2 separate regions of the Homo sapiens genome follow, and region 1 is linked to region 2. The links come from fine-mapping of genetic effects on gene expression. A gene starts in region 2. The other region holds a variant in brackets. All regions are shown on one strand. Distances are between the middles of the regions. Region 1 overlaps IQGAP2 (IQ motif containing GTPase activating protein 2). Region 2 holds the start of IQGAP2 (IQ motif containing GTPase activating protein 2).

Evidence for each region. PIP is the estimated chance that this variant, and not a neighbour inherited with it, causes the effect.
Region 1: its variant is the best candidate, but not a certain one, in a credible set for the expression of IQGAP2 in esophagus muscle (GTEx, PIP 0.68).

Annotation. Positions count from the first base shown.
Region 1 is chr5:76,592,778-76,595,685 of GRCh38, reverse strand. IQGAP2 (IQ motif containing GTPase activating protein 2) reads right to left here. Exons shown (of 36, transcript NM_006633.5): 9 at 2,761-2,848. Among named protein-coding and RNA genes, the nearest start is that of F2RL2, 29 kb to the left of the region's middle. The variant C/T (reference allele first, on the strand shown) is at 1,272.
Region 2 is chr5:76,402,155-76,405,062 of GRCh38, reverse strand. IQGAP2 (IQ motif containing GTPase activating protein 2) reads right to left here and starts at 1,778. Exons shown (of 36, transcript NM_006633.5): 1 at 1,472-1,778. The coding sequence starts at 1,517. RefSeq lists silencers at 1,467-1,576, 1,747-2,096 and an enhancer at 1,313-1,813.

The DNA of each region.
Region 1 (2,908 bases), 190 kb before region 2:
GGGCTCTGGAGATCCTCCGACCTCAGTCTCTACAGTATCTGGGGCTACAGTTGTGTGCCACCACACCCGGCTAATTTTTAAATTTTTTTTGTAAAGACTGAGTCTCTCTTTGTTGCCCAGGCTGGTCTTGAACTCCTGGCCTGAAGTCATCCTCCCACCTCAGCCTCCCAAAGTGCTAGATTACAGGCATGAGTCACTGCACCTAGCCTGAAAAACACTATTAAATAAACAATTTCTTCTAAAAAAATAAGGTAAGATCAACCACTCTTTTACACTCTGCATTTAACGAAATGTCCAGGCAGGGTGTGGTAGCTTTTGTCTGTAATCCTAGCATTTTGGGAGGCTGAGGAAGGAGGATCACTTGAGCCCAAGAGTTTAACACCAGACTGGGCAATAGAATAAGACCCTGTCCGGAAAAAAAAAAAAAAAAAAAAAAAAAAAAGCAAAGAAATGCAAAATGTCCAGCTCTGATCTTAACAGAAAATATCATGCAATGAATGGAATGCATTTGCTGAACCTGAAAGGTAAAGGGTTATAATGTGAACAAAGCTGAGGCCTCTAACAACAGATCTGTTGACATTACCACCAACATTGTCACTGATGCTATTACTATGGTTGCTATGAATGTGGATGCCTTAACATTTTAATATAATAACCTACATGGTTGAGGAAAATCTTGTCAAAGTAATGATTCTTACTTTTTTTTTTTAAATTTTTTTTGAGATGGAGTCTCACACTATCATCCAGGCTGGAGTGTAGTGGCGCAATCTCAGCTCACTGCATCCTCCACCTCCCACATTCAAGTGATTCTCCTGTCTCAGCCTCCCAAGTAGCTGGGATTACAGATGCCCGCCACCACGCCTGGCTGACTTTTTGTATTTTTAGTAGAGACAGGGTTTCACTATATTAGCTAGGGTGGTCTTGAACGCTTGACCTCGTGATCCACCCATTTCAGCCTCCCAAAGTGCTGGGATTACAGGTGTGAGCCACTGCACCCAGCTGATTCTTACGTATTTTAAAGTGTACAATTGTCTCATTGTCATGTCATCAAAATGAGGGTTTTTTTCCTAAGGTTACTTTCAGTTCTACTGGACTATAAATTTTAAGATGGGGAGAGATAAAAAGACTTCAGAATAATCATGTTCTACACATTTAAAGCCATCAAACCTTGCTTTCATATTTTCAGCCGGTTTTACCATTAGTGCAAAACATCCAATGCCTTTTACTTAAAAATGGAAAAAAAAAGTATAGCCAATTTGGCATTAAATTTG[C/T]GGTCAGGAAATTATGGCACTGAGTAAAGAACTAAAACATTTATATAAAGCATTTTATTTAACATGAAAAAGAAAACTGTTTTCATGGTTATAAATATTTCAAAAATAAAGGATGGTTAAAGGCTATGGAGCCATTTCCTCTCTAGGCTTATGGACCTCAGATGTCTCACTGGCAACATTAATTTCCTCCTGTAATTCATTTCTGTCAAGCATCACGAAGTTCTCAGCTTTCGCATAGAGCAAAAAGACAAACTTTAAATTGTACTTCATGTATCATCAGTAACATGTTCAAGATTTCACAAGAATAAAACAACAGGCACATGCACCCTAAAATGTTAAGGTGTTACCTTAAAAAAATAAAGGCAATTGAGAGTTTTCAGCCCAGTTATGTGTATGTGAGGCATATTCTCAAACACATTCAGTTGTTAACTCCTAGACATTTACATTAACCCTCTGGGGCTTTCCTTAATTACTGTTTGAGCCCCTTAGGATATTTCTCTCCAGCAATTTAGGAGCAGACTTCTTAGTAACACCGTGGGTGTACACTTCTTTGCAAGAGTTACAAGCAAAAAAGAATATTCAAAACTCAACGAGGATGTTAAAAGGAAGGCAAGGTTTAGGACTGTTGTAATTAGTGGATACTCCAAATTTTAATTTCGCAGGGAGTTCACATGCTTTATTAAGCAGGCTAAATGGCCTTTCATGTATTAGTTTTTTGGGTATATATGGATTATCTAGATTGACCAGGGAAAAATAAACATCAAATGAAATTTCTTACTGACTCTTCTGATGCTCAAGTAAAAATAGGTTTTGCCAGAGGGGAGAAAAGACTAATAAAAAAATTGATGTATCTCAACCTGCATACGCTTATTTTAATTACCTGAGTCTGCTGTTCTTTACAATCAGACACTTGAGCCAGGTACTAAGAGGAACTCATCTGCTTGACTCCACAGAGGCTCAGGGGTGTGGGACTCAAAGCTGCCATCATGAGATTTCATCTGGCCTGTCCATAGTCCCATTCACTGGCACCAAAGTTACACAAGTGTAAGAAAAATCTTACAAACAACAGACTAATGGCTGGGAAGTCACAGAGAGCAGTGGTGTCAATAGTACCTTTTACAATTCCAATAGAACATCATCGCATAATCATGGGCAAGCAACTACAATCTGTAAATTATAATCTTTTACTAAATGACCTTCAGTATTAGCCCCAAAAGTGACAGAATTAAAATGTGGAATGTAATGAAACAGGAAGGTAGAATCAAACTAGCTTCAGGATACTTTGTGTGGACTGAGATCACCAAAAAAAGCCCAGTGGGAAACTGCCAAATGCTGCACCATAATTAAGAGCAACACTGACACTGAGTAGATTTTTCATTGTATAAGGCAGTTTTCCAAGTATACAAATTGAGAGTTGTGTTGGGATTCTGGCAAGGAAAGTCTGTATCTTACGGAAATATCAATTTCCTTCATACGATCCATTACTTACTGTTGACTTTATTAATATTGCCTTGGATTTCTGCTTGTGTCAGCAGTTCTTCATAAGCATCTCTTTCTTCTTCTGAAATACAGCTATTCTGCAAAACAAAGTCTTCACTGATTTCTGAGGTTAAATAAAATATTTCCAAAACTCGAAA
Region 2 (2,908 bases):
ATCTTATCATTTGACACAGTGAAGCCACCATATATTCTGAGAGCTGGTCACATTAAAGTACTTCCACCAACCTGAGGTTGGCACTGCAAACACTGAATGAGCACAGCATTCCTCCTTGAACCCAACGGGCTCTGCTGTATCTGTGGTTTACCAAAAGGCAAAAAGCTGGGTCCCACCTGAGGTTGGCACTGCAAACACTGAATGAGCACAGCGTTCCCTCTTGAACCCAAGAGGCTCTGCTGTCTGTGTGGTTTACCAAAAGGCAAAAAGCTGGGTCTCAGTCAACTGCTGAATGCATTAGAGTACAGAGGCTGTAGTCCTCAGGCCTCCCCCTCACTGCAAGGGTAACACAGGAAAGATAACCTCCCATCTTTGACACGCCAGCGGGGAGGAGGGGAAAGAACCTACACAAGTTGAGGAGCCCTTTTTCAGTTAAGCAAGTCAGTGGCCTTACGCACCATCCAAAACCACACACACACACAAACAAAACACCCTGCTGAAGGTATCACCACCTTAACCCAAACCTGGTACCTCTGCCACCAAGGCCAGCCTGGGCAAAGATTAACCTGTGGTCTTCGGCCTTGGGTTCACTGACAGGGCCACCTTGGAGAGACAGCAGGCCAACTTTCTGTTTGTTTTAAAGGAAATGCTTCCTGGCACATGTTTAGGACTCTGAACTCTGCACATGAAGCCACGTGGTTGGTGTTAATCTGGCTCCATCCACTCACGATCGGCCAAAGCAACCTATTTCCGAGGGCAGCCCCTGGCTGGGTAATCGACACCATCTCGTTCAAGTCACGCGGGCTCCCGCCGGATTCCCCGGAGCCTAGTGCCGCGTCCTCTCCACACAGCAATCCTCCCGCGCGAGGGGAGCGGGGGGGAAAGGGGTTGGGGGGTTTCAGAGGGGAGGGACTTACACCTGTGAGGCCAATGGCTCTAGCGGGTCAGGTGAAGTTCGAGGGCGCGGGACAGGAGGAGACTCCCGCCCTTCCAGTCAAGCCGGCTTTGCACTAGCAGAGTGCGCCGGCGCCCTACTTGCGGTGCCCACCTGTAGCCACAGCAAACAAACTTTCCTCCCCTTCTGGGTTGGAAGAATCCGGTGCCTTACGCCACCCCCTGGCCCAAGCCGGCGGCGACCCGGAGCTCCGCGGACTCCTCACCTGATACCCCTAAAATCCCAACCTGGTCTGTCCCAGAGCGCAATCCCCGCACTGCCCGCGCACCCCGTTTGGGTATGCGGAGTGGAGGGTCTGGGTTGCCAGCTGGATATTAGGAATTGGGGGGCGGGAGGAGCGGGGGGACGCGATTCACTGCCCTTTGCAACTCCAGCTCCCAACTTTGCCAGCCGCGCAGTTGCTGCCTTCCAATTTCCTCTGCGCCGCGCAACCGGCTCCCTCGGCTTCTCCAACGCCGTCCTCGGGGAGGGAGCTCCCCAAGGCCAGCAGGAACCCCGCGCGCCCGGCGCACTTACAGCCATAGCGGGGTCTCTGCAGCGACGGCAGCTCTTCGTGTGGCATCCTGCGCGTCTCCGGGGGCCCGCCCGGGGCGCGCCCCCCGCGGCTACCCTCGCTGGCCAGGCTCGCGGGCTCTGCGCCCCGCCGGCGCGCTCGGATCCCGCCTCTCGCCGATTTCCCCTAGCCGCCCGAAGATCTGCGACCCACTCCCTCGGTGCTCTCTCGCCAGAGCCAGCCACGGCCGCCGCGCGCTGACACTGAAGTAAAAGTGAACTCTCCTCCCTCGCTCCCTGGCCGGTCGCCGCCGCCTCCCGCAGCAGGTTTCCTTTCTCCTCCAGCCAGGCCCCGTTATTCACCGCGGTGGGAGCGCGCGCCGAGACGCAGCGACCCCTACCGCGTGTCGGGCGCAGCGCCCAGGCCGCGTGGACCCGCCCCTTCTCCCCCGGGGGAGAGGGAAGGGGCCGAGAGGGACGCTGGGCCGGGACCCCCTGCAGCTGGGGCCCCCGCACAGCTGGTGGCCTGGGGGTGGCGGCCACCCCGCCTTATTTCTCGCTTCTGGAGAGTTTCGAGGGTGGAAGTGAACCAACGCGGAGAAGTGCAAGAAAAACCGCAGAAGTCACAGGGAGCCCTTCGTGTCCGGGGTGTTGCTCAGTTACTGAGGGACAAACAGCGCGGTTCCTTTTCCTCTGGGGAGATTTCACGTTGACTTTTGTTCTTCTTCTTCGTCTTTTTGGTTTTGTTTTTTTTTGTTTTTTTTTTTTTTTTGCTTCGAAAGTTGCTTCTGTCACTTTTTGTCTACAAAATAACAGGGTTCCCCTTATGACAAGAAACTGAGTGTGTGTGTGCTGGAGGAACAAGATAACCCAAGGCAACCACTCAAAACACAACTGCGAGTCATCCCCCTCCCTCCGATCACCTTGTGCCCGCCCCCGCCCCAGTGTGCAGAGCCTTCTCTCAAGCCCAGCTGGGGTCGCAAGCCACAGAAACCTTTTCCGGCTAAGCTTTTAAGGAAATTAAACTGCATGTGGCTGTTTTGAAATCGGGGTTTTCATGCGGTCGCCAGGAGCTATTTTTCTCTTTGTGTCTCAGCGTGATAAAATCTGGAGGGAATGCGGGACGCTTCCGTACCTGTGCCCTCACCTATTTGACAATTGTGGAATGTGTGGGTGACCCGATAACAGGAAAAACAAACTGAGGGAGGGCGATAAGAAATTATTTAGAGCCGGGCGCGGCGGCTCACGCCTGTAATCCCAGCACTTTGTGAAGCCGAGGCACAAGGATCCCTTGAGCCCAAGAGTTCCAGACCAGCCTGGGCAACATAGCGAGACCCCGTCTCTCCAAAAAATGAAAAAATAATATTAGCCGTATTAGCCGGGCGTGGTGGTTGCGCCTGCAGTCCCAAGCTACTCAGGAAGCTGAGGTGGGAGGATTGCTTGAGCCCGAGAGGACAAGGC